Linked DNA regions of Homo sapiens: all the other regions are reported to be linked to region 2. The links are microRNA targets in miRTarBase. Many come from high-throughput screens and were not tested one by one. Region 2 holds a microRNA gene; each other region holds the end of a gene's coding sequence.

Region 1 (5,000 bases), not on the chromosome of region 2:
ACAGTGTTGTGCAATTATCACAACCATCCATATCTAGGGCTGTTTTCATCTTCCCAAACTGACACTCTGTCCCCATTAAACACTAACTCTCATTCCCCGTCCCGCAGCCTCTGGCACCCACCATTCCACTTTCTGTCTCTATGAATCTGATTACTCTAGGTACCTCATATATATGGAATCATAACTGTATTTGTCCTTTTAACATAATGTTCTCAAGGTTTATCTGTGTGGTAGCATGTGTCACAATTTCTTTTTTTTTATTTTTATTTTTTTCTTAGAGACAGAGTCTTACTCAGCCACCCAGGCTGGAGTGCAGTGGCATGATCATGGTTCACTGCAGCCTCCACTTCCTGGGCTCAAGTGATCCTCCCACCTTAGTCACCTAAGTAGCTGGGACCACAGGCATGTGCCACCACGCTTGGCTAATGTTTTTATGTTTTGCAGAGATGGGGTTTTGCCGTGTTGCCCAGCCTGGTCTTGAACTCCTGGGGTCAAGTGATCCTCCTACCTCAGCCTCCCAAAGTGCTGACATTACTGGCATGAGCCAGTATGCCTGGCTAGAATTTCCATATTTTCCCCCTTTGGTTTTTATTTTTTTGTGAAGTCTCAAATAATTTCCTTTTTTAAAAACTGATAATATACCATGCTTTGTTTATTCATTCGCCCATTGATGGACGCTTGTGCTTCCCCTTTCTGGCTACTGGAAATAATGCTGCTTTGAAAATGTGTGTACAGAGATCCCTTCAAGTCCCCTTTGGGCATATGTGCAGAAGTAGAACTGCTGGATCATATGGTAATTCTATTTTTAGTTCTTTGAGGAATCACTATACTCTTTTCCATAGCAGAAGTGGAAATTTAAAAAAAAAAAAAAATAGTTGCCAAACTCTAGATTTGGGGCTTCTGCTAAGAAACTGGAGGTCTGACCCCAATGGTCTTGCACTTGCAGAACCAGCCTCCTCAGGCCCCTCAGAGACACCTCCCCAGCTAAGCAGTGCCCTTTCCCCAGAGGTCTGGGTCCCAGCTCTGGAGGACCCTCTCTCAATCTTCTCACACTTTATTTATTTATTTATTTATTTATTTATTTATTTATTTATTTATTGAGACAGAGTCTTGCTCTGTCGCCCAGGCTGGAGTGTAGTGGCGCTATCTCGGCTCACTGCAAGCTCTGCCTCCCAGGTTCATGCCATTCTCCTGCCTCAGCCTCCCGAGTAGCTGGGACCACAGGTGCCCGCCACCACGCCCGGCTAATTTTTTGTATTTTTAGTAGAGACAGGGTTTCACCGTGTTAGCCGGGATGGTCTCCATCTCCTGACCTCGTGATCCACCCGCCTCGGCCTCCCAAAGTGCTGCTGGGATTACAGGCATGAGCCACTGCGCTCGGCTATTTATTTATTTATTTATTTACTGAGACGGAGTCTTGCTCTGTTGCCCAGGCTGGAGTGTAGTGGCATGATCTCGGCTCACTGCAGCCTCTACCTCCCAGGTTCAAGTGATTCTCCTGCATCAGCCTCCCAAGTAGCTGGGATTACAGGTGCCCGCCACCAAGCCTGGCTAATTTTTGCATTTTTAGTAGAGATAGGGTTTCACCATGTTGGCCAGGCTGGTCTCGAACTCCTGACCTCAGGTGATCTGCCCACCTTGGCCTCCCAAAGTGTTGGGATTATAGACTGAGCCACCGCACCCAGCCTCTCACTTCTTTTTTTTTTTTGAGACAGAGTCTTGCTTTGTCTCCCAGGCTGGAGTGCAGTGGTGCGATCTCAGCTCACTGCAAGCTCTGCCTCCCGGGTTCATGACATTCTCCTGCCTCAGCTTCCCAAGTAGCTGGGACTACAGGCACCCGCCACCACGCCGGGCTAATTTTTTGTATTTTTAGTAGAGATGGGGTTTCATCATGTTAGCCAGGATGGTCTTGATCTCCTGACCTTGTGATCCGCCCATCTCGGCCTCTCAAAGTGCTGGGATTACATGTGTGAGCCACCACACCTGGCCCCGGCCTCTCACTTCTAATAGCTACAACCTCTTTCCTTTTTCTCTCTAGCCCTAGGCAGTTCCCTCAGTTACACTTTGTGATACTATGGTCCCTTTCTGCGTTTCTAGTAGTCCTGCACCTGGTTAACATGTCCCTCTATTAAATTCTTTCTGTTAAAGCACCTGGTGTGGTTTTCGTTCGCTTGGCTGACAGATCCCACTTAGCTGGTGTTCTCACCTGGAATTGCTAGACAGCAGCTGCCCCCTTTGGTCAGGTATATGCTCTTCTGTTCCCCTCTTCCTGCTCCCTACTTTTTTCATTTTTATTTTTATTTTTTTGATACCGGGTCTCGCTCTGTCACCCAGGCTGGGGTGCAGTGGTATGATCATGGCTCACTGCAGCCTTGACTTCCTGGGCTCCAGCGATTCTCCCACTCCAGCCTCCCAAGTAGCTAGGTCCACAGGTACACGCTACTACACTCCTGATCTCAAGCAATCCACCCACCTTGGCCTCCCAAAGTATTGGGATTATAGGTGTGAGCCACTGCACCCAGCCCCCACTTTTCTACATCTTGCTGACTCTGTATGCCTGACCCTAAGGGGATCTGATTTGTGCTCCTGTCTAATGTAATAACGCCCATTGATTGAGCATCACCTATGTGCCAGAGTCTGTGCATAAGACTTTATGTAATTATCTCATGCAGTTCTCAACATAATACCGTGAGGTGGGCACTGTTATGCTCCCCATTGTACAGATGAGAACATTAAGGCTGGGAGAGGGGAGGACTTGACCAAAATCACAGCCAGGGCCAGCATTGGTGGCTCACGCCTGTAATCCTAGCACTTTGGGAGGTCGAGGCAGGTGGATCACCTGAGGTCAGGAGTTTGAGACCAGCCTGGCCAATATGGTGAAAACCCATCTCTACCAAAAATACAAAAATTAGCCAGGTGTGGTGGCAGGTGCCTATAATCCTAGCTACTCAGGAGGCTGAGGCAGGAGAATCACTTGAATATGGTGGGTGGAGGTTGCAGTGAGCTGAGATCACACCACTTCACTCCAGGCTGGGCAAAAGAGCAAAACTCTGTCTCAAGAAAAAGAAAGAAAGAAAGAAAGAAAGAAAATAAAATCACAGCCAGGCAGTGGCAGAGCTGGCCACAGGGACCCATCATTCCTATAAAATGAGGCTAACCACATTGTTCCCAAGTCAGTAAGTTCATACTTCTATCGTGAAAACTGTGTTTTATTTATATGTTTAATAAATATCTGATCTGTGCACTCTGGGCTCCCGTTAAATTAGGTTACATACAAGTACTTGAAATCAAAACCTCAGAAGTTACCCTTCTGAGTTTTGAGAACAGCATGTCTGTGACCATCAAGAACTCAGTTCAAGTTCAGGATATCAATCACATAGCATGGTGACCATAGTTAATAACAATGTATTGTATACTTTGCAAATTGCTGACAGTAGGTTTTTACTGTTCTCATCATAAAAAAAGGGTATGTGAGGGATACATATGTTAATTAGCTTGATTTAGCCATTCCACATATTTCAAAACATGTTGTACACTACAAATACATGCAATTTTTATTTGTCTTTTTTTTTTTTTTTTAATTTTAGAGAAACGATCTTGCTCTGTCGCCCAGGCTGGAGTGCAGTGGCTTGATCGTACCTCACTGCAGCCCTGAACTCCTGGGCTCAAGCAGTCCTCCTGCCTCAGCCTCTTGAGTAGCTGGAACCGCAGGTATGTACAGGTATGTACCGCCACATTTGGTCATTAAAAAAAAATTGTAGAGATGGGGGTCTCACTATGTTGCCCAGGTTGGTCTTGAACTCTCAGCTTCAAGCGACCCTTAGCCTGAGCCTCCCAAAGTGCGAGGATTACAGTTGTGAGCCCCCATGCCTGGCTGCCATTTAGTTTCTGATGATCATTTTCCTGCCTTTTTTTTTGGGTGCAAAAAAAATGGTTTTAGTCCTCAGCATCTTACCTGCATCAGGTTCACCAAGGGGCCCCAGCCCGATGGCTCCCTGCCTCAAAGCAGTGGACCATCCATCTCTCCCAGGATGGCTCGGTAGCACCTGAGAGCGCATGCAGATAGCCTGGGATTTGAGAAAAACCATGAACCCAGACAGATCACAGCTTGCAGAGCTCAGGGTCCCTTGCTGTCCTCTGAGAGCAGTGACCTCCCAGAATCTTCCTGCTGGTCCAGGTACTGTGAAGCCTCAGGCCCCACACCCACCCTCTGCCTTCCATCCTTGCAGCTGGGTTGCACAGCAGTACTGCCCAAATGAGATGCCCCTGCCCGGGCTGGTGCCAACATTCAGACCACATGGAAGGAAAAGTGTTCTGTTTATTGGTCTGGCTTGGTCTCCTGTGCGTCTCTCAGAATGCTGCTCTGCCCTTGTGGGCTCAGGGGTCGCAGTGGTGGTCACACTGGGGCCTGCCTCTGCTGCCCACCTGGAAGTGGCCTCAGTCAGTCTTCCTGAACCCTGGAAGGCAAAGACCACAGGATGGCATGGGATTCTGAAGGCAGCCAGGCTTCATCCCCACCATCACCTCAGATGCCCAAGTACCCCTCACAGCTGGCATGATGTAGTCACCCCAGAAGCCATGGGTCTCAATGAACCACAGTCATAATAGCTAGTTTTCTTTTTCTTCATTACATGGATTAAAGGAGACAGATATTTCCCCAGCACAGCCACACAGCCACTTGGCCTCTCCATTCTGAGGCATAAGGTGGTCACAGAGCTGTTAGTCAAGAAAGACGATGTGCTTTCGCCCAGCCCAGCCACTAAAGCTGTGTGACTGTGGGCGAGTCACTCCACCTCTCTGAGCCTCATTTTCCTATTGGTCAAGTGTAACATTGCTAAAGCCTACCTCCCCAGTTGCTATTAGGCAAGTACAGCCATGGAGAAGACAGCGTTTGGGGAAGTGTAAAGTTCTATAAGAGAATGAAGACTAACCAGACCATTTTTCTACTGTTTCACACTTCAGGCCTTTGCATCCATTCCTCACTTGATCTTCACAACACA
Region 2 (5,088 bases):
CTTACAATTGCCAGGGCAAGGGCAGAGACTTGGAGAACACAGTGGGAAATGAATGGTAAATATGTCATTCTCTACTGGAGGCAGGAGTGGGAAGTAATTAGCTGGGGAGGAGTGGGAGCTGGCTAAGGTCAGAAACAGTGACCTTACAGCATTATTATCTTTCAAATTCAAATACACTTCTATACCTCGCTTTGGGTTGCTGGGACAGAAACTGCAAACGACATTTCTATTTTTCCAGCCAGATACCTTTCAGGCTCTTTAGGGGGTGGTAGAGGGAGCCTGCAAGGCTGGAGGAAGAAGAGAGAATTTGCTGCCTCCTGTCTACTTCTTATTCCTGTGATGTCACCTGAGCAAAGCTTCTTCAAATGGGCAGAGGCACGGCCTTCTCACAGCAGCAGCTGAATCTGCTTTTCAATTTTGTCCCATTTATAAAACACGCTCCTTTGTACCCACTCAGAGACATTAACCCCAGCCAGCCAGTACCAACTCCTCAGAAAATTTGAGTCTCCAAGACTCCTACTCTACGTTTCCAAGTTTAATAATTCCAATCTCTTCCCTCTTTTCCCTCAGTTGAAAGGGTGGTAGCTGATGACTGCAGTTGCCACTTACCTCTGTGATACTTTAGAGATCTTTTTTCCCTTCTCAGTTACCTAGCTAATGGCTTTTTACCTAGTTGCAATTCTTCATATTAAAATTTTCCTTTTCCTTTACCTGGTGTGGCTTCTGTCTGCTGAATGGATCCTGACTAATAAAAGGTATTTCTTCCAAAGAAAAATCTATGATGGTAACTGAGGTTGGGGGTAACTGAAGGTTCAAATAGCAGGGAGATCAAGTTCAAATACCAAATGCAAAGACCACAGACAGAATTTGAAAGAGTGACCACAAAGTTAGGAGGTTGAAGGTGGGCAGAGACATAAGCAAAATAAGAGTAGGACTGGAACAAGATAGAAGGCTTAGGGTGATTGCTATGGAGGTGGAAATTATCAACCCATCCACCTACCCGCTACCCTCCCCCAGTCAGTAGGATGGGTAAAGCTGATTTAAAAACCTCAGGCAAGGCCAGGCGCGGTGGCTCACGCCTGTAATCCCAGCACTTTGGGAGGCCAAGGTGGGCAGATCGTGAGGTCAGGAGGTTGAGACCATCCTGGCTAACATGGTAAAACTCTGTCTCTACTAAAAATACAAAAAATTAGCCAGGCATGGTGGCATGCGCCTGTAGTCCCAGCTACTCGGGAGGCTGAGGCAGGAGAATCACTTGAACCTGGGAGGTGGAGGTTGCAGTGAGCCGAGATCGTGCCACCGCACTCAAGCCTGGGCGACAAAGCGAGATTCTGCCTCAAAAAAAAAAAAAAAAAAAAATCTCAGGCAAAAGTGGACATTACTTGTCTAGATTTGGGGTTGATGAGGGTTTTTTATTGGAGGTGGGAGTCGTTTTGTTTTTTTGAGACAAGGTCTCCCTTTGTCACCAGGTTGGAGTGCAGTGGTACGATCTCCGCTCACTCCAGCCTCACCCTCCTGGGCTTAGGTGATCCTTCCACCTCAGCCTCCCGGGTAACTGGGATGACAGTCACATGCCACCATGCTTGGCTAATTTTTAAAATGTTTCGTACAGATGGGGTCTTGCTATGTTGCCGAGACTTGCCTTGAACTTGTGAGCTGAAGCGATCAAGTTCTAAGAGCAGCTTATAATATGATTTTTAACGCATGTTGTCTATGATCATAGAGGGAGATAGACATGGAAAGAAAGAGGGCCTTTTCTGCCTTGTGCCTTTTTCCATGTCTATTCTAAGGACCAGGATTGCCTTGAGACCAACACTGTGAGAGCCCTGACTCAGTATCCATAGATATTCTATCTGCACATTGCAGAGCACTAAGCCAGTCCGCCTTCTCAGCTTCAGACTAGTCAGTTTCATGGACTTTCAGCATCTCTGTGTAGATGTTTCCAGGCACCTCAAACCCACCATGCTCAAGGATGGATCTAATCTCTTTTTTCATTCAGATTTCCCCCCCGCCGCCACCATGGAAAGCAGGTAGGAAACACTGGATTTCTTCAATGTAGCCCCCCAAAACAGAAACCTGGTTGCCTTTTCTTTTTTCTTTTTTTTTGAGATGGAGTCTCACTCTGTCGCTCAGGCTGGAGTGCAGTGGTGTGATCTCGGCTCACTGCAACCTCTGCCTCCTAGGTTCAAGCGATTCTCCTGCCTCAGCCTCCTGAGTAGCTGGGATTGCAGGCGCCCACCACCACACCCGGCTAATTTTTGTATTTTTAGTAGAGACAGGGTTTCACCATGTTGGCCAGGCTGGTCTTGAACTCCTGACCTCAAGTGATCCGCCCGCCTCGGCCTCCCAAAGTGCTGGGATTACAGGCATGAGCCACCACGCCCGGCCCTGGTGACCTCTTAGCATCTTCCCTTTTTGCTTCTTCTGGCTTCAAACTATTTGAAATACTCTGTGTGACACATCAGTGAACAAAATGAAGTCTTGTTGCCTAGTTGGGAAAAATGGAAAATCAGCAAAAGGTAAATCTGGGAAAGACTTTTTATTTAAATTATTTCTCTTTGAAGGGACTCATGAAAAATTGAGAAAATAGGGAGCGGTACTGGTCATGAGGAATGTGGGGAGGGAATCCTGAAATCTCCAGCTCTGATTTGCAGAGAAGGTTTGAGAATAAAGAGCTCCAAGAGCTGTTTGACTCATGTTGGCCGATCCTGAAATCCAGAAGTCCCCTGGCAGGAAACCCTCTGGAGACGACAGACTAAACCATCCTGCCATTGTCAGCCTCACAAGGGGCTCAGCAACTCAGCAAAAGGAAGTTGTTTTTTTGTATTGCACTTTTTTTTTGTCTTAAAGAGATATCCTTCTTAATAGTTACATTAATATCTTGAATAAAGATGGAGAGTGTATGTCAACTTGGAAGAGACAGCAACCATACTGGAAGTCAGAATCAGAATCTCAAAACATCTTAACATAAGGCTAAAGAAAGGGACCAACAACAGAAGAGAAATTAATAGGAGCAAAGGTAAAATTTTGTACTGAGGTTCAAAAAGCCACTTGTAGAAGTGCAGAATGGGGAGATGTGGCTGAACAGGACCCCAAACTTTTCAAGCTTGTTCTTGATGTTCTCTCAGTCAGGGTATGCTAACTGCTATAATGACAGTGCCCAAGTCCCAGTGATTTCAAGATATCCTGTGGAGAAAAAAGTATGGAAGGGGCCAGGCACAGTGACTTATTCCTGAAATCTCGGGACTTTGGGAGGCCAAGATGGACAGATCGCTTGAGCCCAGGAGTTCAAGACTAGCCTGGGGAACATAGCGAGAACTTGCCTGTACTAAAAATAAAAATAAAAATAAATCAGCCGGTCATGGTGGCGTGTACCTGTAGGCCTAGCTGCTCGGGAGGCTGAGGTGGGAGGATCACCAGAACGCAGGAGGTCAAGGCTGCAGTGCGCTATTGTCGTGACACTGCACTCCAGCCTGGGTGTCAAAGTGAGATTCTGTCTCAAAAAAAGTGTGGAAGGGATAACAGTGCTGGCTCAATTGATTGCTTCCTGTGAGACTGGACATTTCCATTAACATGTGCCCAGCAAAGGGATTTTTAGATAATATTATCTAATTTTAACTAAGTTAACCCTCATATTGGAAAAATTGGCTTTAAAAATATTTCTGTAAAAAAATAGGTGAAAGAAAGACAACAGCAGAATAAACCTAAAGAAAATGGCAGAGCAAACCCTTCTGTTCTAAATATAAATTCTACATCAGCCACAATATGAGGTTAAAAGAAAAGAATGGTAGGATAATTAGACCAGCAGGTAGTCCCTTCAAATCCAAAGTTATCAAGAAGACCATTTAAATTATGAATTTATATCCACTGCCATTAATGATAAAATTCTTCCTAGTTGGCTGGCATGTTATGTCTTAAGATGTTAACTAGTAATAATATAAAGTTATTATGATTAACAAGATATTTGAAAGCCAAACATTCAAAATGGAAGAAAAATTTCAGCAGCTTTTTGAGAAATTTCACAAAACCTACTAATAATTGCTCAGAAACTTCTTTTGAGGTTTTTTGTTTTACGGTTAAGAAACAAAAGCCACAAACCATTGGGGTCTCTGGTTCTCCCTGCCACAACAAAAAATGTTGAAATAATTATAAAACAAAAGGCCAAAAACTAAAATTCACTCTTTTGTCAGCAATTTTTTGGGAAGTCACATAGTAAATATTACGGAAGATATGAAGAAACAACTTAGTATTGGCCATGCATTTGGGTGAAAGTATAGGTATTTCTATCATGTCTCAGCTTATGGCATTTTTTGGATTCTATTTCAATAGTTACATTCTTGAAGAACTGCTTTTTTTTTTTTTTGAGACAGAGTTTTGCTCTTGTCGCCCAGCTGGAGTGCAATGGCGCAATCTTGGCTCACTGCAACCTCCGCCTCCTGGGTTCAAGTGATTCTCCTCCTACCTCAGCCTCCTGAGTAGCTGGGATTACAGTCACCCGCCACTAGGCCCAGCTAATTTTTGTGTTTTTGGTAGAGACGGTGTTTCACCATGTTGGCCAGGCTGGTCTTGAACTGCTGACCTCAGGTGATCCACCCGCCTTGGCCTCCCAAAGTGCTGGGATTACAGGCGTGAGCCACCGTGCCTGGCCAAAGAACTGCTTTTTAATGAAGCACTTTAAAGAAAAAATCATACTGGAAAATCAGACTAAAGAATATCTCAATGATAATTTTTTTTTAAAAAAACAATATTTTATCGGAAAACTTTTAAAGTATAACCACTGAATTTACAAGAATAAAAGGTATTCCTGCAGAGGAACAACAAAATTTCCAGAAACCTTGACAGAGATATTCATCTCAGTGGTGTTCATCCAATGTGTCATTCAATGGGGAGCTAATGCACCAAGAAATTGATGCTGGAACGTGCATAATACTCTTGATATCAACAATGCAATTCGTTTCAAAGAAAACCTGTAAGCAGCAGAACTTTAGAAGGTTATAATGAGATAGAAAGTCTTTGAGATTGTATCATAATCCTTCTTGTTCTTCTACCCAATATTGATTTTCTTCTCTTCTCTTCTAGGGGTATTTT
Region 3 (5,088 bases), not on the chromosome of region 2:
TCAGATTGAAGTGACTTGAACAAAATTTCCCATTTATCTATTTACCAAATACTTCTTGGATGTCAGGCCCTGTGCTAGGCTTGGCAGGTACAATGATGATAACAGCTGACTAGGAGAAGGGCTGAAAGTTAGGGTTGGAAGCTGAGCATTGAGGACCATATAAAATGAGGACTATAAAATGAGGACCAGCTGAGGATCATATGAAATGTGCATCAGCTCTCCATACCACCTGAACAAGGCCTGGAACAAGACCTGGCCAGGGGTTGCAGTGGGGCTGGGCTGCAGATGGTCAGGGCTCTGCTCACCTCACCTCTCTCTCTCTGTTCCTTTCTCCCCCTCTCCCTGTGCCCACATCTTGCTGCAGGCTCCCGGGCAGAGAAGAAAGCAGAGCCCCCACCTAGCAAGCCCACGGTGGCCAAGACGGGGCTGGCACTGATCAAGGATTGTTGCGGGGCCACCCAGTGCAACATCATGTAGCCCCCACGTGGGGTGCCCTGGGCCATGGGGACCCCCCCCCACCCTCTTGTCTTTATAGCCCCCATTTCACCGGGGCCCAAGAGCTCTCCAAGGCAGAAGGGGTTGAAGGCAAGCCCGTGACTGTCACCAGAGGCCATGGGCACGGCAGGCGGGCCTGGCCACCCTGTACAGAGTGTAGCAGTAGGGAGTCTCTCACCGTCGCATGGTCCTCCCCAGAGCATGCCGAACCCAGGAGTCTGTCTCACTGTTTATCCAAACACCAGGAAAGGTCCTCCCTCAAAAAAGCATATCTCCACTTCTCTCTAGCTGTATCTAACCCACCGTGTGAATGAACTGGGAGAGGGGCATGCTCCCCAGCTGTGTGTAGTCGTGACTTCTCAACAATCTAGCACCATGTCGGACACGTTCCCCATCCACCCTCCTAGCTCTGCTCTCAGAGCTAGGCACATGGGCACAGGTCCCCTCCCGTCTGTCCTCTCCCAGCAACTGTGCCCTGGAGGGCTCCACATGGCCCCCGTGTCTCTCGGGCACCACCCATATAGCAGTCCCAGAGGGCCCATCTGTAAAGATCGAGCTTGTGTGTGGTGTCGTGGTCACATCTCCCGCTTCCCCCCATCCTGTGTCTGGGCACAGTTCACATCAGGACAGCGTCCATTGTGCTCTCAGTCTGCCTCAGGTGTGTGCCTGGAGGGGGCCTGGACTGGCATGGATCCAGTGTGCAGAAGAGCCAGCAGGGAACCGGAAGCTCTGATGTCAAGGCCAGAGCAGTTGAGAATGGGACCCAGAGTAGATGCTGACCTGGGCACTCCACCATTCCGGGGCCACCACAGAGATGCCAGCAGGATGCCACTTTGCCAGCCCGACACACGGACCTTTGTAAAGAACAGCAACAGGCAGGAGAGGCAGCGTGTGACCAGATTGTGTCCCGTCATTGGGTGGCATATGTTAACTAGCTGCCAAACAACTTCAACCCGTGTAATTCATGTACATTTGCAACAGCCAGCCCGGTACAGCCTGTGTGACTTCTCTGTATGTGTGTGTGTGTCGTGACCAGCCTAAGTAGTTAGCATAACTCAAGATGCTGATGTGCAGTCACCCATCAGAGAAAATAAAAATGGAAACCACGTTCACAGCATTTTAAAAGTTTTTACTTTTTTTCTTGATTATGGAAGTAATCCATGTACATAGTAAATCATTTTAAAAGTACAAAAAGTATGAAGAAGTTTGTCTTAAAAAAAAAAAAAATTATTCCTCCAACTAGAGACCACTCTGATGTTTCGACGTTTTAAAAAAGTCTTTTTTTGTGCATTTTTTCATCGTTGACATCATATTGTGGTATCATTTATAACCAGTTTTTTCCTACTTATTATACCACCATCTTCCACATCATTAAAAGCTCTTTGTAAACATTAAACACTCTTCATAAATCATGCCAATGTCTGTTTAGTAATCCATCTTGTGGATGTACTGTAATTCATCTAATCATTTCCTCACTATTGGATGTGTAGACTGGTTCTAGGTTTTCTTATAAATAGTGTCTTGGATTAGCCAGGCATGGTAATGGGTGCCTGTAATCCCAGCTACTTGGGAGGCTAAGGCAGGAGAATCACTTGAACCCAGGAGGCAGACGTTGCGGTGAGCCGAGATCGTGCCATTGCACTCCAGCCTGGGTGACAGAGCAAGACTCCATCTCAAAAAAAAACAAAAAAAGTGTCTTGGGCCAGGCGCTGAGGCGGGAGGATTGCTTGAGTCCAGGAGTTCGAGACCAGCCTGGGCAACATGGCAAAACCCTGTCTCTACTAAAAATACAAATAGCTGGGCATATGCGGTGGCGCGGGCCTGTGATCCCAGCTACTTGGGAGGTGGGAGGATTGCTGGAGCCTGGGAGGTTCCAGCTGCAGTGAGCCATGATCACACCACTGTATTCCAGCCTGGGCAACAGAGCAAGATCGCACCCCCTGGAAAAAAAAAATAGTGTCTTGATAAACATCTAGGGGGATAAGGTTTCATCTGAATTTTTTATTTTTTCCTTAAGATAAACTCCTAGAAGTAAAATTATTGGGCCATTCATAAGTAGCATTTTCAAAATATTTGTAAATTGGCTGGGTGCGGTGGCTCGCATCTGTAATCCCAGCACGTCGGGAGGCAGAGGCAGGCTGATCACTTGAGGCCAGGAGTTCGCGACCAGCCTGGCCAATACAGAGAAACCCCATCTCTACCAAAAAATACAAAAATTAGCTGGGTGTGGTGACTTGTGCCTGTAATCCCAGCTACTCAAGAAGCTGAGGCAGGAGAATCTCTTGAACATGGGAAGCAGAGGTTACACTGAGCTGAGATTGCGCCACTGCACTCCAGCCTGGGTGACACAGCGAGACTTCGTCTCGAAAAAAAAAAAAAAATTTGTAGATCAAAAGGTCTTTGGTTGGACAGGCCCTCCCAGCAGGCTGCTAGACCCCAGTCCTCCCACTCTGCGTGTTCGCGGCTTTGGTCTGCACACCACTTCCCACCATTCTGATGCTGAAAAGGGTCCCTTGGGCTACTCAGTGCCACCACAATGGCCTCAGAGGACCCCGTGTCCTCCTTCACCAACCTAGACCAATCATGAAGCCAGACTCTTCGTGTACTGGGGATGCCATAATGAATGACCTTCTACTGGGTGACTTAAAACAGTGGAACCGTCTCCTTTCACAGTCCTAAAGGCCAGAAGCCTGAAATCAACCTGTCTGCGGTGCTCTGCTCCCTCTGTGGGGAAGAATCTTCTTTTGCCTCTTGCAGCTCCTGGTGGCTCCTGGCACCTTGGCAGTTCCCTGGCTGCACCACTCCAGTCTTCACCTCTGTCTCCACGTGGCCGCCTCCGCTGTATATGTGCCTCTGTGCACCCTCTCATCTTAAAAAGACACCAGTCATTGGAGTGAGGGCCACCCGAATGCAGTATGATCTCATTTGGACCCTTTCCTTAATTACTTCTGCAAAAACCCTCTTTCCAACCAAGGTCACATTCTGAGGCTCCACGTAGACATGCATTTGGGGAGGACCCAATTCCACCCACCACAGACCCCTCCCGCTCCAACGTGCAGTGAAAACTCAGGCTGCAAAGGGCCCACCGCCCTCTTTTCCCCATAAAAAATGTGGGTCAAGGCTGGGCACTGTGGATCATGCCTGTAATCCCAGCACTTTGGGAGGCCGAGGTGGGAGGCTCACTTGAGGTCAGGAGCTCATGACCAACTTGGCTAACATGGTGAAACCCCATGTCTACTAAAAATACAAAAATTAGCAAGTGTGGTGGCACATGCTTGTAATCCCAGCTACTCGGGAGGCTAAGGCAGGAGAATCGGTTGAAACCAGGAGGCGGAGGTTGCAAAGAGCCGAGATCGCACCATTGCACTCCAGCCTGGGCAACAGAGTGAGACTCCATCTCGGAAAAAAAAAAGGGGGGGCTTGGGGGGTCCGGGCGTGGTGGCTCAAGCCTGTAATCCCAGCACTTTGGGAGGCCGAGGCGGGCGGATCACGAGTTCAGGAGATCGAGACCATCCTGGCTAACACGGTGAAACCCCATCTCTACTACAAATACAAAAAATTAGCCGGGCGTGGTGGTGGACGCCTGTAGTCCCAGCTACTCAGGAGGCTGAGGCAGGAAAATGGCGTGAACCCGGGAGGCGGAGCTTGCAGTGAGCAGAGCTTGCGGTGAGCAGAGATTGTGCCACTGCACTCCAGCCTGGGCGACAGAGCGAGACTCCATCTCAAAAAAAAAGGGGAGAGGGGAGTGGGGGGGTCAGCGAGGTCTGACCTCAGGCCAGTTATACAGCAGTCACTCACAGATCCAACGAACCAGAGGAGATCAAACCCTCATCAAAATCCTGCCTCTGGTACTTCCGCTAAGCTCTGGGTACACCTACTGTATGTTCCTGTAATTCCTACTGATTTTTTTAAAAAAAGAAAACATTAAAAAATCCAATTTATTTAAGCTGTCACAGACGCTTCCAGATTACCAGGGCCACCTTCCAAGCTGGGAAACCTTGCAGACTGTGGGGTCCTGCACACCTAGACTTGCTCCTTTTAGAAGCCATGGAGGAGGTTGATAATGGGAATAACATTTATTGTAGCTTATCTCTATGCCTTGAGCAATGTGCTCACACTGGCTGGTTCCCTCCTCACATCAGCCTGATGAGTCAGATCCTGTTATTACTTCTCACTTTACAGATGAGGAAGTAGCAGTAAATCCATTACCCTTTTCAAGCGGAGGTTGCAAGAGGTTGCAAGCGGAGGCAGAATAAACACTTGAAACAGTGAGTCAGATCCTGTTATCACTTCTCACTTTACAGATGAGGAAGTGGCAGTAAATCCACTGCCCACGGTCCCAGGGGTTGTTAGTGACAGAGTCATCATTCATCTCCCTCCCTCCCCACCACTGTAGCCCCAATTGTTCTTTCTCTTCCCATCGGAGGGATTTAAACAGGTCTCTCCCATTTAAAAGCAAACAGGGCTGGACACGGTGGCTCACGCCTGTAATCCCAGCACTTTGGGAGGCCGAGGCGGGCAAATCACGAGATCAGGAGATTGAGACCATCCTGGCTAACATGGTGAAAACCCATCTGTACTAAAAATACAAAA
Region 4 (5,088 bases), not on the chromosome of region 2:
TGCTGTCTTGCTATCTGCTCTCTGAAGCCTTTCTATTCTGCTCTGATACCCACTTTTCTGCTGTTTTGAAGATCAGCTTACTTCTCCTTTCATGTCATGCCTGGCATGGACTTAAGCTAATCCATCCTTTTAAAGTTGGCTATCTGACATCTTTCATAGCCATTAAAATATTACTTAATTTTTTTTATAAAAACTTCTTCAAGCTAACTAAGCTATCTTAGTGAACATCATTCGGTGAAATTGTAAAGGTCTGCACTAAGTCACGAAAGTTTCCTTGCTTACTAAATAATTCTACACGAGAAGAGTGAATATATTTAGGAATATAATATGTTCATTTCTCAGCCTTGGTAGGGTGCATGATAAGGTCTTCGGAGCGATGATAATGGATTATGGAAACACTGCCTTCTAAATTTTAGGATTAAATCTTTTAAAAATTGGAAACCTTTGTGCTGGTTTCTCAGTGTCAATGAGAAGTTCAGGAGTATAGTGGGCATGGTGACTCACTTATGAAGAAGGCTTCTATTTGCTAACAGTGAGATGTTTTATAGACAATGTTTAGCAATAATGTGTTTTTTCATATAAATATACTCATTTGTATATTGATTGCATTTCTGCTATAAGCTTAATAAGCTTTTTAATATTATGTTTTATATCTTTTAATAGATGGTTTGTGAAGAAGGTGACAAGCTAACCTACTCAAAATATGGGCGATTTTGTCATGAGGTCAAAATTAACTATTCTCCATATGTGAATTATTTCACTAGAGTATACTGGAACAGATCCTACTTTGTATATAAAATCAACACTGTGATATCCTTCCAGTCTTGAAAAATAACAGAGCCTTCATTTCAAAGACTACCTGAAGTAAAATGCAGTTTTCTTCTACCTACTCGGTGTCTTTTGCAGATCAGAGTATGGACATTTGAAATATTGCTGCTTCTTTCCCCCTTCTGCTGTTAACTGGATCCAGAGTTCTGTGGGAAATAGAAGATCAAGCATTACTGTCCTTTGATTAAATGTGATATCTACCACTCTGCAATATTCCAGACAGGTGTCTTCCTTACCGTTACATGGTCTTTAACACTTTTACTGATTGCAATATTTTCCCCATAAAATCTTCATTCTATTATAATATTGATCTTGAATTTGAATATGTGCAAGGTCAGATACATTTCTCAAACATAACATTTAATAAATAATGTGATATAATTATTTAATAGAAAGAATAATTCCGACCTTCAAGCAAGTTTCTGAAGGTATTTTATGATGTATAACAACTGAAGTTTTACAATAAAAACTAATTTAAATGTTAGCTGAAGATATGTGGCATTTAAATTAAAATGGAAATTATATAAAGGAAAGTGATTTTTAAGGATATACATAAAGATATATTTAGAATTTTCATGATACTGTTCTCCTCATCTACTGCTTATGTTAAGTGAGAACTTTCTTAGTAATACATAATGCATGATGTTACTGCATTTTCTAAATGACTAGTAAGTGATTAGTTTTTTCACTTATGCCTATTAATTTGATACCAATTTAATCATGATAAAACAATAACCGTTAACATATATTTTGTTAAATGGACATTTAAAAGAATGTTGTTCAGGTTTTTTTTTTAAATACTGATATGGGGCATACAATCTATTCACATGTTTTCTACTGAAGTACTAAGTAAAAAAATTAAATCATTATCAGAATAAAAATATGTGTTCTAAAATTAGCAACAATTTCTGGGGATACATGCAGATGTTGTTAAACGTACCTCTGCATACAGATATATTATAAAACACAAGCAATGTTATTTATGAAACTGTGATGCAGTCTTCAACATCAAGAAAAAATGACAACTATAATAAAATTTACAACACAGTTTCACAGTCTAAATGCTATGTTCCTTTAAGTATTTTCATATTTTTAATCATTTATTAAGAGAAAATTGTGAAAAGTTAATTTGGCCTTATAGAGAGATTCAGGATAGATGTAGCCTATAGATGTGTCATTTTAATAAGTTGGGATACATGTTTAGTTTTTCCTTATATTCCTGTTCAGTGAACAGATTTTCATAATTCTCACTTGTTAAAGTGCTGCAAAAATTGCATTTTCAGTACTCTAAATTACTACATTAGAAGAGAGCATTTCTCCATTGTCTTTATTTTCTGTTATATATGTGTTGTAAAAGTACACTACATTAGAAGGGAGCTTTTCCGTTGTCTTTATTTTCTGTTATACATGTGTTGTTAAAGTACATGCATTCTTAGACTAACTCTCAGATGCTTTGCTCTTTTGGAGCTGAAGAATTGTTTGATGGTGATGTCATATATCTGATAGATTAGTTTCAGTGGTTCTCATTTCACTTTTATACGTAATTTCTTAACTATATTAAGATAGTTGCAGGCAGTGTACCTCAGGTTGACTCTGTACATCTGAATAGTGAGTCACTAGTATTTTGCTTCAAGCCTTCTGAAAATATAACCATAGTTACCTAAGCACACAGTGAATAGTCACATGGTAGTACTTGTGATTAGAGCATGTAAAACAATGTAATTGAAAAGTCAGCTTCCATATTTTGTAGGGGAAATAGAACACCCTACTTTTTATCTAGTGTGAAATATTTAATCGAATTTTTGTTGATTTATATTATGTTACCTGTGCTGAATTAGGTTTGGTACTTGTGTTTTGTTTGACATATTAGTAAGTTGCTTTTGCTTCTTTCTGTCAACTTATTTTTTAAATAAAATTGATCTGGAAAAATTGTTAATGGGATGTTTTAAATAATGAATTTTTCATCCAGCATCAGTTGAAAAGGAAAAGAAAGCTTCATTATGGAAATGACAATATTGAATATGACAGATAAGTTTATTTGCTTCTGTTTTAACTGCAGTTAATAGTACTAGACAACTTTAAGTGGAAAGCATTTAGTTTATTTCTTCACTTATTTGTAGAGTGAACAAATGATTCACAATTCTACAAGTAATTCCACTTAGGTAACTTACAGTTGTTAGGTTTGACAATAAAGATCTACTATGAGAGGAGAAGAATTTATGGGTTTTGGGTGGAAGGAATTTCTCAAAGAAATAAAAAATGTTCTTTGCCCTTGATACTGCAAACCCACTGATACAAGTGCCTTGAATTTATTATTATTATTATTTTTTATTTTTTTGAGATGGAGTTTCACTCTTGTCTCCCAGGCTGGAGTGCAATGGCGCGATCTTGGCTCACTGCAACCTCCGCTCGCTGCAACCTCCGCCTCCCAGGTTCAAGTGATTCTCCTGCCTCAGCCTCCGGAGTAGCTGGGATTACAGGCACCTGCCACCAAGCACGGCTAATTTTTGTATTTTTAGTAGAAACGGGGTTTCGCCATGTTGGCCAGGCTGGTCTCGAACTCCTGACCTCAGATGATCCACTCACCCCAGCCTCCCAAAGTGCTGGGATTACAGACGTGAGCCACTGCGCCCGGCGCAAGTCTTTGTTAAAAGTAGAGATGGAGGCCAGGCGCAGTGGCTCACTCCTGTAATCCCAGCACTTTGGGAGGCTGAGGCAGGCAGATCACGAGGTCAGGAGATCGAGACCATCTTGGCTAACACGGTGAAACCCCGTCTCTACTGAAAATACAAAAAATTAGCCGGGCAGGGTGGCGGGCGCCTGTAGTCCCAGCTACTCCGAGGCTGAAGCAGGAGAATGGCGTCAAGCGGCGAGGCGGAGCTTGCGGTGAGCCGAGATCATGCCGCTGCACTCCAGCCTGGGCAACAGAGCAAGACTCCATCTCAAAAAGAAAAAAAAAGTAGAGATGGGATCTCTAGCCTCCTAAGTTAATTTAGCCTCCCAAATGCCAGACAAAGAATCTAACATAAAATTTACCTTGAATAAGATATATGATATTGATTCTGAGCTGCTTTGTATTTTTTCTGACTTTGGCATCTGTATCTTGGTGCTTTCTGTTAGACTGGTAGAGTTTAAGAACCTAAGGAGTATGCATTGTACTTCAGTGCTAACTTTTTTCTTCATTTACTTTCTGTGTATATAGGCAGCATATTTTTTTTGTAGAACATTAACCCAGATTGCTAATAGCTTCATGTTACGGCATTCTTCCACACAGTCCAGATTGATTTAAGGAAAAGCAGAAATGGAAGTCAAAGTGTGTTATAAATTGAGACTGAAAAACATGCTTTAAAAAATAGATTTAATTTCTTACACTGTGAATAGCCATTGTATTGTTTTGTTTCTGATAAATCAGTTGTTTTGGGCCCCTATTTTTGAACTGTTAAAAAATTTTGATGCTTTTCGTGGATAAAAGTAGTGCCTCTCTTTATACAACTGATGGGGTTTTAAAAAGTGTAAATTGCCTTTTTTGTTAAACTTATTTTAAATGCTTTAGTATTTAAAGGGTGTATGTTATTAATTAATCTGCATATTTGTAACGCAAATAACTACTTCCTGATTTACATCTCAATATATTCTTCTTTCATTTGCCCAATTTAAAAAATACGTAGTCTCTATTGTTGCTGTTTACTAATAGTTTTAGATCCCAATGTGTATTAGAATTATAGCTACAAAAAGTTGCAAGTAAAATTTAGCAATTTCCTATTCAAACAGGATCTCATTAGTATGTTTTTTAATGTGTAGAATTAACACTTTAAAATAAACAGGTGTGAAAATTATAAAGGAATATATATGACAATTATTTTCTGTACATTAATGTCTAAACATTATACTTACTTTTTCATAATAAAGGAAATTTTGGAACCAAATTTGCTGAGTTTAGCATAAAGGCGTCTTTGAATTATTTCTGAGTTTCCTAAAATGTGCAACATTTTAATCTTGGCATATCTAATCCTATGTGCTGTTCTGTAAGAGGTACACTGGACTTCTAACCACTATATGTATTTAGTAGAATAATGGTATCACAAAGGAACAAGAATTCCAAACTTATAGTTTGAAATGTCTCATAAACAACCCTTTCGTATTTTAAGTTAGTAGCTTTGTATAGCTATTTAACACAGATGAGTATAGTTAGCTTTATATATATTATCCTCTGAGTCTTATCTGTGACAATGTGTATTTAGATTAAATATGTTCCTCCTG
Region 5 (5,088 bases), not on the chromosome of region 2:
CAGACAACTCTTCCCACTTTTTTTATTCTGCTACAACGGCTTCAAGTAGAATGTTGAGTACTGGCCTTTATCAGGGGCACCTGAGACCATTCCTGCAGCCTGGGGCTGCCGGAGAGCCCCAGACTGTCTCAGAGCAAAGCTTGGCTGGCACACGCTGTCTGGAAGGCCAAGGATAATCTGCCTGCCTGCCCTACCTCCTTCACCGTCTCTCTTCCAGGTTCCTGAAGAGGCTCTCAGCTAGGGCCAGGGCTGGGAAGACCCACTAAAAAAAATGACGCAAAATGCTTTGGGGGAAGAGTGGGAAGTGGTCTGTGTATGATAAGTAAAACAAAGTTTATGTCTGTCCACCTTTCTTCACGTTTAGGGAAGTTGTCGGAATCCCCAAAAGAAGAGTCCTTGGAGGAGCCCTCCATGCGCCAGAGCAGCCCCGCAGAGACTGTTGATTAACCCAGCAGAAGCCTGGGCTGCGCAGACGGGGCCTCAGAAAGAGTGGCCTCGCCGTCCTGGTGTAAGGTGCCTCCCTCGGAAAGGATACTATCTCCAAGGATTTTCTAAACTAATTGTTTAATCTCTCCAGATTATGTATATTAACCAGCACTGCGCTCGAATAGACCTCAATGCGCGCCTTGTGCGCGCTCCTTTCCACGCCTTTAAGGAAAGCCCTGGCTGGTGCTGGGTGAGCGGGGCGCACTGAACCTCCGGGGCAACCACATCCATTCAGGAGCTCCGGGGACTCAGAAGAGCCCAGGCGTCTAAGAGTGGGAAGGGACGGACTTTAATTAAAAAGTTTGACTCCCTCTCTAATCCAGTCTTTCTATACCAAAAGCATCAACCTGTTTTGCTGTCTCCTCACCCAATAACTAGTCCCCATGAAGGTAGGTCATGAAGACTACAGGGAGATCGTACATTTCCTCAAGCAAGATTCATTCTTATCTTACCCCGGCACAGGGCACCTAGCCGCATCTTAAAGGCTGTCAGAAATTCTTTAGTAAGTAGGGAAACTCTTTGGAGTTTTGCTTCCTGGTAAGGATGCAAACCAAGATTCTGCTGGAATGCCAGACACCGTTTACCAAAAGGCGGGTTTGCTTTTCTTCCATGCGTAATGTCCAACTTGGTTCTTTCTATTCCCCTAACTACAAGTAAGGCCTTGTTAAGAGCCTGTATCTGAATCGTAGGCTCTGGATTACAGAATTCTACAGTTATTTATTAAGTCTCAGGAAATATATTTGTGGTAGTTGTCACATAAAGCTGATATACTTTAGTTCAAAAGAAAGCTGCAGAGGTGATTTATTTGTGCGTAAAAGGAACAAGATTTAATTGGAGAGAGACGTGTTCTTTTCAACGCAAGTACATGGGATGGTATAGCGCTGTGGAGCGTTATTCGAGCTTCATCTACTATGCACTATATGCCGCTGTCTCCAAAGGAGTGTTGCCCTAGAAACTTGTTTTAAATCTGCTGCTATATATCAACACCTTGTTTTAGCAGTCCTTGGCTGAATTACAGTTACACAGTTTGGCGCTTCTTTCAAATTTCCTCCCATCAGTTTGGCTAAAGAAAGGAATTTTTCTCCTTTAGAAATGAATTGGCTTAATTAGTAAGTAGATTAATGGCAATTGCTGGTGAGTTGGTTTCCAGCAGAGTTTCACCAGAGAGGGTTAATCGGAGTCAGGTCTGGAATCTTTCCCAGAACTGGCTGCCAGCCATTTCCACCAACCAATCAACCCTACAAGAAACAGAGGAAATGAAATAAAATTTGTATTCTCTGTGCCATCGTCCTGGACAGAAATTCCTTGGAAGCAGCCTCCTGGTTGGGTGTGATATCAAACTGCTTCATTTCAGAACTTTAATAGAAACTTGAACCTTCAAGATTTATCTGGGTACCAAAGCAAAGTTTCAAATGGCACAATAAAGGTCTCCACAGAACCCTGGATGTATTGGAAATTTCTGAGGCTCTCAGCCAATTTCAGGTTGGGAGAAATTGCAAACCACCCAGGTCCTGCCCTATATCTGTTGTCCATCAGAAGTCCTTCAAAAGTTTTGCTGTATGTTTTGCAGCCTTTTTACTTTTTTACTTATTTTTTTCCCATAGTGATGAAAATGCATTCATAGTTTAACTTGCAGCTGCATTAGTCTTACAAAAAAAAAAAAAAAATCCCTGCTGAGAAATGCATATAATAGGAAAAACAGATCGGCTGGACAGCAGTGTAATTAATGCCAGAAAGGGCTGAGGCCGGTTTCATAGTTTGTCTTTTGAGGATATCAAGACGAGACCTGGTGAAAAATGACGCATGCTTTAGCATTTCAGAAAGCTGGCAACTGGCAGCGCTTTTCCTTTTTTCTTTGACTTTCTGCCGCGGAACAAAGAGGTCCGCAGAACTAGCTAGGTTGTAATGAGTTCTATGTCCCTAGCACATTAAGTGCATCATGGAAACATATTGTATCGAAATAGTTTGGAGGAGAATACCGGGGATGAAAGAGAATGGGTGCTTTGATCAGCTCCCTGGGGTCCTGAGCACGCACAGACTGACTTGCAAGGAGTTATTCAGCTCCAGCTAGACACACTTACAACACCATTGAAAGAAATTTGCATATCTGTAATTTATCACATTGGTCCAGAACATTATTGCAAGGTAAATAAAAGTTAGTTGAATAAAAAAAATCAATCATCGCAGATATAGAGAAAACTGTGAAGCCAGTCTTTCCACTAAAAAATAGAAATAAATATGTCTATAAAACATAGTGACTTAGAAGTAGCTGACTTTATTTTAAAATGCCTTTAGAACAACAGGTTATGCACTGGCAAAAACAAGAGTGGCCACAATTTCTTTGCCTTTCTGGTTTAGGGGAGTGTGTTCACTGCTTCCCACTGGAATAAAGTCAAAGTTGAGATGTGTTTGGCCATAACCAGCCTGCAACATGCAGACAAAAATTAGTACACACTTTGAGCAGATATGAAAGACGACTTAATCTCTCTGGCATTTGCAAATGCTAAGTTAAATCTCATTTCTTCTTCTGTTGATTTCATTCCTAAGCCTTGTTTGCTGAATTTAGCTCAAGAGGATGAAATGTCCAGAGACCTGGTCAATAGGAAAACTTGCTTTCGAATGCCCCATGAGAACAAGTGAAAATTTAACAGGCAGGCATTGTTCTGAGTTTTGAAACAACCCAGTTAAACAGCAAACAAGAATCTTCAACTTGACCTTGAAAAAGGCTGTGTGCCTGCAGATAATCTATCAAACAACTCTAGATGACAATGATATATTTCAAAGTATTGTCAGATGAAAAGATTGATAAATTTGCTGTTGCAAAGAGAGAACTTTGGAAACAGGCAACAGGCACTTTAGCTCTCTGACTCCGCCTCCTCCTCTGTCCTCACTGCCCCGTCCCCACCCCACCACCCCCAGCCGCCCTTGGGGCCAACTCGGTAGAAGAAGGCCAGTAAATCAGCACTGTAATATTTCTTAAGGGGCACGGAAAAGCTGTGAACAGTACTTCTCATATTAAACGCAATATTTCTTTGCTTTCGTGGGGAACAAAAGTCATAGCAAGACGTCTTTATGGCTAATTCAGTCAAAGGCACATCCCTGGTTCCCCCCGAAGAAAGGTCAGTGTCGTTGTGTTTGGTCCACCGAGGGGGTGTTTTCACACTGAAAACTGAGCCAGCTGTCCCTGTCATACCCTCGCCATTGGGGAGCGCGCACTAGCCATGGTTATTAGGCACTTCTACACCTGCAAAATACACCGATTTCCAAGACTTTTCAAGACACCCTCCCGTTCTCATGCCCCCTCCTCTTGTCTGCTAAACTTTGACAACACAATTCAAGCCCTGGATGAAAGCGCTGCACGCAAGAAGAACTCTTGGGAGGGGTGGCCCAGCTACCATCTCCCAGTGTCTATTGAGCGGCCATCAGAGAAATGAGGCGGCAAGTGTATTTTCAAAAGTACGGAAAAACTTCCAGATAATCGCTTCGAGGTGTCACATTTGCTATTGCCACATATGCCAACTGTTGAACCCTAATATTTTATTATATGCACCGGTGTGAGTTGTGGGGTTGCAGCCAGGCGTCCTTCGCTTAGAAGTGGCTTGTTTTAAAATTTGTAATTAGCATGTCACTGACAAGCGCCAGGAGACACATTTTTTTTTGAGTTGCCCAATGCCAGTGCACGTCTATATTTTTAAAATCCGAATGCCAACGCTTGCCCAAATGGATTTTATAAAACTTCTAGAAACATCCCCTAGCTAGACTCATACCCTGAATCCAATTCCGAAGGCCTGCGCTCCAGAGATAGGCGACTAACTAGCTGTTTGGGAGACGTCCAGCGACTCCAACAGGAAAAGAGCTAGAAGGGATCCTGTGCAGTCACCGAAGAGAAATTGTAAAACTAGAAATAATTCAGAAAACGCATCTTTAAGAGCGAGAATGCCCCGAGGTGCCGGTACCTCTAAGACAGAAGGGCTAATGTAACTAGCTTTCTCCATCCGCACTTACATAGGGCCTAGGAGTGGGGGTAGGGAACCGAAGAGTCCTATCTGGCTGCGGGTTGCGGGGAGGGGACGAGGAGAGGAGAAGAGCCCATTTAATTAGCCGGCGGTGTGTCTCTAATCCTCATCTTTGTCTAATCCACCCAAACTGCCGAGCTCTACATGAGAAGTCCCTAGAGTGGGCGAGGTGCAGAGGTGCCCAGGACGCCTTGGGTTCCTGGGACACAGGCAGAGGTGAAACACCCCACATGCCACAGGAAGCGGGGAGGGGGTGCCTCTCACCACAACGGAACCCTAAACTATTTCCTGAAGGCTTGGGGCCTCCACACAACCCGCCTCCACCAGCAAAGCGCCGGCGCCTCTCCAAAGCGATGTCAGCGCAACAGGTTGTTTGGAACAGGTGCCGGCCAGCTAGGGATGGGATTGGCCTTAAGTTGCGGGGATCAGTCAAGGGCCAAGACTCCCCGAGAAGCAAGGGCAGACCCCCAGAGGTCCGAAAGTGGGGACTGGCTAGAAACCTGCGCCCCCCGCTGCTGTCGCTGCTAGCGCTGGCGCCTCGGCCCAGAGGCAAAAACCAGCTCGCCACAACCTGCGCCCCGGGCCA
Region 6 (5,088 bases), not on the chromosome of region 2:
CCACCCAGCCTTCACCCCAAGGTGAAGTACGCTTTCTCAGGTCCCCAAGGATGGGTGGCCAGGTCCCCCACTGGGAGTGGAGGTCTCACTCCCTTCCTTGGGTTCTGACCTCCACATTATCTGGCTGTGAGGGTGACCTGCCTGGCTTTCCCCACCAAGTGCAGCTCCCCGCAGCTGAAAGCCACACTCTCAACACAGGACTCCTGAGATCTGACACTGGCCAATTCACACCCTGCTTGAAGCTGGCATTTGAGAGGCCTTCAGGTTGACAACAGCAGCAACAAGTTTGCTGTTCAAAGTAGGCCAAGTCACGGCTTTGAGCGGCATCATTTGAAAAGTGCTGGGATCAGCCAGGCGCAGTGGCTCACTCCTGTATCCCAGCACTTTGGGAAGCCAACGCAGGTGGAGCACTTGAGGTCAGGAGTTCAAGAACAGCCTGGCCAACATGGAGAAACCCCGTCTCTACTAAAAATACGAAAATTAGTCGGGTGTGGTGGCAGGCCTCTGTAATCCCAGCTACTCGGGAGGCTGAGGCAGGAGAATTGCTTGAACCCGGGAGGCGGAGGTTGCAGTGAGCTGAGATCATGCCACTACACTCCAGCCTGGGCAACGGAGTAAGACTGTCTCAAAAAAAGAAAAAGGAAAAAAAAAAGTGGTGGGGTTTGGGTGCAGTGTCTCACATCTGTAATCCCAGCACTTTGGGAGGCTAAGGCAAGATCTCATGAGGCCAACCTGGGCAACATAACAGCATGACCTCATCTCTATAAAAAATTTAATTTGGCTGGGCGCGGTGGCTCACGCCTGTAATCCCAGCACTTTGGGAGGCCGAGGCGGGCGGATCACAAGGTCAGGAGATCGAGACCATCCTGGCTAACACAGTGAAACCCCGTCTCTACTAAAAGTGCAAAAAAATTAGCCAGGCGTGGTGGCAGGCGCCTGTAGTCCCAGCTACTCTGGAGGCTGAGGCGGGAGAATGGCCTGAACCCAGGAGGTGGAGGTCGCAGTGAGCTGAGATCGCGCCACTGCACTCCAGCCTGGGTGACAGAGCAAGACTCCATCTCAAAAAAAAAAAAGAAAAAAAAATTTAATTAGCCAGGCATGGTGACAGGTACCTGAAGTCCTAGTTACTCAGAAGGCTGAGGCAGGAGGATCGCTTAAGCCCGGGAGTTTAAGGATACAGTGAGTTATGATTGCACCACTTCGCTCCAGGCTGGGTGATTCTCTAAAAAAAAGAAAAAAGAAAAAGATGGGAGGATGGGAGGCGGGGCTAGGGGACTGGGAAGGTCCCTCAACCCTTTCTACATGCCTTACCCAGGGTATCTCCCATCATGGCTGGTTACTGTGCTAAAATTATAATTTTTTTTCTTTGAGACAGAGTATCACTCGGTCACCCAGGCTGGAGTGCAGTGGTGCGATCTCAGCTCACTACAACCTCCGCCTCCTGGCGGGCTCAAGTGACTTATCTTCCCACCTCAGCCTCCCATGTAGCTGGGACTATAGATGGGCGCCGCCATGCCCAGTTACTTTTTGTATTTTTTACCTAGGCTGGTAGTGTGCTAACATTCTACCACTTGGGCAACAGTCTTCGGGGCTACATACTGCCTTTTTTTTTTTTTTTGAAACAGAATACCACTCTGTCGCCCAGGCTGGAGCGCAGTGGCACAATCTCGGCTCACTGCAACCTCCGCATCCTGGGTTCATGGAATTCTCGTGCCTCAGCCTCCTGAATAGCTGGGATTACAGACGTCTGCCACTACACCTGGCTAATTTTCTTATTTTTGTAGAGACGGGGTTTCACCCTGTTGGCCAGGCTGGTCTTGAACTCCAGACCTCAGGCGATCTGCCCACCTTGGCCTCCCAAAGTGCTGGGATTACAGGCGTGAGCCACTGCGCTCGGCCCATGTTGCCTTTTTGAGATACTTTTTTCAAAGCTACCCTGGAACGGTAATACAATAAAACTAGTACCTGTGCATAAATTGTTAACTGACCTGCCCAGCATGGGTACCTAACTGGGGTTTAGGGTAGGGGGACAGAGGGCTTTTTAAGATTGGTGGTGGGGGATGGGGATTAATACAGACAGCTCGGGTAGGGTCCACTCCTGGTTCCAGGGTGCAGGTTGCTGGACTTGGAGCATGGGATGAAGAGATGTTCAGAGATAGAGATCATTAGGTTGCTGAACTCCCCTAGGGCAGTGGAGTGAAAAAGCTGTAGCAGCCAAGGCAGGGTGTAGATCCCTGGAGGCTGACGGCTTGGGGTGGGGCCACAGTGAGCCCAGCCCCTGATGGCTCTAGTTCTTGTCCCTTGCAGAGCTCAGAAATGGAGGTGGCTCCTGTGCCTTGTCCAGCAATGGTTCCCTGAAAAGAACCCATAAGGATACCCCCAATCCACCCCAATGTGTTTCTGGTGTTATTGTAGATAATCTCCCCAACAGTGGGTGAGCTTGGGGTGAGGGAACCTGGCTGCTGGGAGTGGAAACGCCCTATATCCTCCATCCTGTACAGCTGCCCAGTGGACATACCTCTCTCCCCAGCAATTTCTCAAGGCACAAGATAAAGTAAGGGGCAAATACAAAGATAAAGCTGTGAGGCAGGAGGGTCTGAGTCTGCCTCTAAAGGAGTAGCCAAGACTCCTGTTTCTCTGCATTTTTCTTTTTCTTGAGACAGGGTCTCGCTCTCTCACCCAGGTTGGAGTGCAGTGGCACGATCCTAGCTCACTGCAGCTTCAAGCTTCTGGGCTCAAGTGATCCTCCCACCTCAGCCTCCCAAGTAGCTAAGACGACAGGTGCACCACCACGCCTGGCTAATTTTTTAAACTTTTTTGTAGAGATGGGGTCCCTGTTGCCCAGCATGCCTGGACCCTCAACACTTAATAGTGATAATAACATATATCCAACCCTTGGTAAATGCCAGGACTCATCCTAAGACCTACATCGATAAACTCCTTTAATCTTCACAACACTGGGAAATATATATATATACTTATCCTCCTTTTACAGGTGAGAAAACTAAGGGACAGACAGATAAATCCCTTGCCCAAGGTCACAGAGCTGGTGAGAGGCAGGTTGGGACGCAGGCCTAGGCTGCCTGTGCTGCAGAGCTGCACCCTTGACCACTGTGCACTCTGCCTCTCATGCCCTCAGCTCTACCAGGTTGGGCAGGAGAGAGATGGGAGAAGCAGTGGCCACTTGCTCTGGGCCAGGCACTTGGCAAACACCTGTAGGTTCAATCTCAGAAGAACCCAGTGAAGAATGAGCCAGATACTCACTGTCCACGTGGAGAAGCAAGACCAGAAGTCTGACATCTGCCAAAGCCACACAGCCCCGGAAGTGAGGGAGCTGAAATCCAAACCTCTGCCTGAGCTCTGCCCACCAGGTGTCTCCTCCCCAGCCCATGTAGGGAGCTGAAGAGAATGGAGACCAGAGGGGAGGGAAAGAGGAGGCTGGAGAGGAGCTCCACAGGTCTTCCTCAGGCCTGACAGCTGCCCCTGGCTTCCCTGAGGTCCACAGGAACCTCCAGACCTTCCCAGGATTGCCCAGCAGGGGAGGGGGCCCAGTGGGGCAGGAACTCAAGGCAGTTGGGCTCCTGGAGAGCAGCCACCCTGCCGCTCCTGCCTGCCTCAATGCAACGGTCTCAGGCTGGGCTGCCAGGATGGGAGGCAGGTCTTGTGGAGTCGCCCACACACCACATACCTGCCCTGAGGCCTTCAGGGACCAATGCAACAGGAGAGGCATTCCCAAGCACCACATGTTCCAGTGGTCCCTCCTGCTCCACCTGGGCCAACAGGGCTGAGGCCTGGAGGAGGAAGCTCCTCTGGAGGACATGGATGATAACCTGGATTGCCAGTGGGGAAGGTCTGGAGCACTGGGGGCAGCCCAGGACCCAGAAAGCCAAGGACGGGGACCCACACAAGGCACCGTGGGGACAGAGATGCTGCTCTCAGGACTTGGTTCAGCCAAGGCATGTCCTGCTGCCAGGCCTGCAGTCCCTTAACTCCCCTCTGACCCAGCCTCCACAATCCCCAAGAAAGGGACAAGGGGCTTCGGAGAGGGGCCAGGTGTACTGCAGGAACGGAACAGATGGGTGGTGGGAAGAGCCCAGGGCTTCACTAGTGCAGACGCCGCCGGTACAGCACCACCAGGAGTGTGACTACCAGCACCCCTGTCACAGCCACCTGGAGCCACAGAGCCCCAGGTGAGGGCCTGTGGCATGGCACCTCCCTCTCCTGGAACTTCCGGTCGGCTTGTGGCCTGGGGCCGCCATCCGGGTCCGCAGGTGGCCCAGGGTTGCCCTCCAGGAGCTGGATGCTGGGGTTCTCAGCCACGTGGATCCCAAAGGTGCCCTCGGACTTATACTCATTCTCCTCTGGGCCATGGCAGGGCCCCATGCCCAAGGAGGTGCTGGCACTGATGGCAAGATCCTCGAAGCAGCCCGAGAACGGGCTGTCTACCTGGGATGCCAGCACGCCAGGCTTACTCAGCTCCGACCCAAGGCCCCTATTCTCAGAGCTGCTGTCTAGCCAGGCTGAGCTGCCTCCAGTGGCGCCGGCGGGTGTTGGAGCTGCTGGGGTCTCCTGGGAAAGAAAGGAGAGCACTGGAAGGGACTGGGGTTGGCAGGGAGACGAACCTGGTAGGGCGGTCCCATTCCCAGGCCAGGGCATGAACTAACACTCCAACCCCTCAATTCCCAATCTATAATGCCCCTAGGCCACCTTTTCTTGGAGCAGTGGGGGTAGAGGGGACCAAGAATCTGCACCAATGGTGGCCTCCTCCAGGGCAGCCTTTCCCTACTCCCTGGCCTGCCTGTGAGCTCATGCCCACCTGGAAGCCTTTGGTAGGGCGGGGCTCCATCCTGCACTGACATCCTGCCTGGGCCTGAGAACTAGAGAGCAGCCACAGGGTCAGAGGCCTGGCCATGTGCCCAAAGGGCCCTATGGACTTGGCTCTTCCCAGCAGACAGCCGCAGCTAGGGTTAGATGTGAGGCTTGGAGCAGGCAACAATGGGGGGCTGCTGGGTCCGAGTGGCTGCTCCAGGTGGGACTGCGTTCTGTAAAGCCTGGCCATGGAGGGACACACCAGGCATCCTGGTGAAG

Evidence for each region. The annotated mature microRNA hsa-miR-4430 reads AGGCUGGAGUGAGCGGAG and lies in region 2 at 1,491-1,508, opposite strand. An mRNA with a match to its seed (bases 2 to 7 or 8) in the 3' UTR can be bound and repressed. Matches are read on the target gene's strand: a 7mer-m8 pairs with bases 2 to 8, a 7mer-A1 pairs with bases 2 to 7 and ends in A, and an 8mer does both.
Region 1: miRTarBase lists TMEM40 as a target of hsa-miR-4430. Seed matches in the 3' UTR shown: 7mer-m8 at 3,613-3,619.
Region 3: miRTarBase lists BMERB1 as a target of hsa-miR-4430. The part of its 3' UTR that is shown has no 7-base or 8-base seed match.
Region 4: miRTarBase lists DPY19L4 as a target of hsa-miR-4430. Seed matches in the 3' UTR shown: 7mer-m8 at 3,740-3,746.
Region 5: the mRNA of C10orf67 is a reported target of hsa-miR-4430. Seed matches in the 3' UTR shown: 7mer-A1 at 1,698-1,704.
Region 6: the mRNA of MAVS is a reported target of hsa-miR-4430. Seed matches in the 3' UTR shown: 7mer-m8 at 3,437-3,443, 7mer-m8 at 1,645-1,651, 7mer-m8 at 1,395-1,401, 7mer-A1 at 1,330-1,336 and 7mer-A1 at 779-785.

Annotation. Positions count from the first base shown.
Region 1 is chr3:12,730,337-12,735,336 of GRCh38, forward strand. It overlaps TMEM40 (transmembrane protein 40), which reads right to left. Exons shown (of 12, transcript NM_018306.4): 12 at 3,192-4,457. The coding sequence ends at 4,438. Among named protein-coding and RNA genes, the nearest start is that of TMEM40, 26 kb to the right of the region's middle.
Region 2 is chr2:33,414,939-33,420,026 of GRCh38, reverse strand. MIR4430 (microRNA 4430) reads right to left here and starts at 1,511; the gene lies at 1,463-1,511.
Region 3 is chr16:15,586,353-15,591,440 of GRCh38, forward strand. BMERB1 (bMERB domain containing 1) reads left to right here. Exons shown (of 6, transcript NM_033201.3): 6 at 365-1,907. The coding sequence ends at 477. MPV17L-BMERB1 (MPV17L-BMERB1 readthrough) reads left to right here. Exons shown (of 6, transcript NM_001414674.1): 6 at 365-1,907. The coding sequence ends at 477. Among named protein-coding and RNA genes, the nearest start is that of MIR6506, 22 kb to the right of the region's middle. RefSeq lists enhancers at 732-1,233, 4,174-5,088, 4,720-5,014.
Region 4 is chr8:94,789,083-94,794,170 of GRCh38, forward strand. DPY19L4 (dpy-19 like 4) reads left to right here. Exons shown (of 19, transcript NM_181787.3): 19 at 664-4,754. The coding sequence ends at 828. Among named protein-coding and RNA genes, the nearest start is that of INTS8, 32 kb to the right of the region's middle.
Region 5 is chr10:23,199,532-23,204,619 of GRCh38, reverse strand. C10orf67 (chromosome 10 open reading frame 67) reads left to right here. Exons shown (of 16, transcript NM_001371909.1): 16 at 365-1,924. The coding sequence ends at 447. Among named protein-coding and RNA genes, the nearest start is that of PTF1A, 9.8 kb to the right of the region's middle.
Region 6 is chr20:3,865,164-3,870,251 of GRCh38, reverse strand. MAVS (mitochondrial antiviral signaling protein) reads right to left here. Exons shown (of 7, transcript NM_020746.5): 7 at 1-4,569. The coding sequence ends at 4,105. Among named protein-coding and RNA genes, the nearest start is that of MAVS, 21 kb to the right of the region's middle. RefSeq lists an enhancer at 3,739-4,240.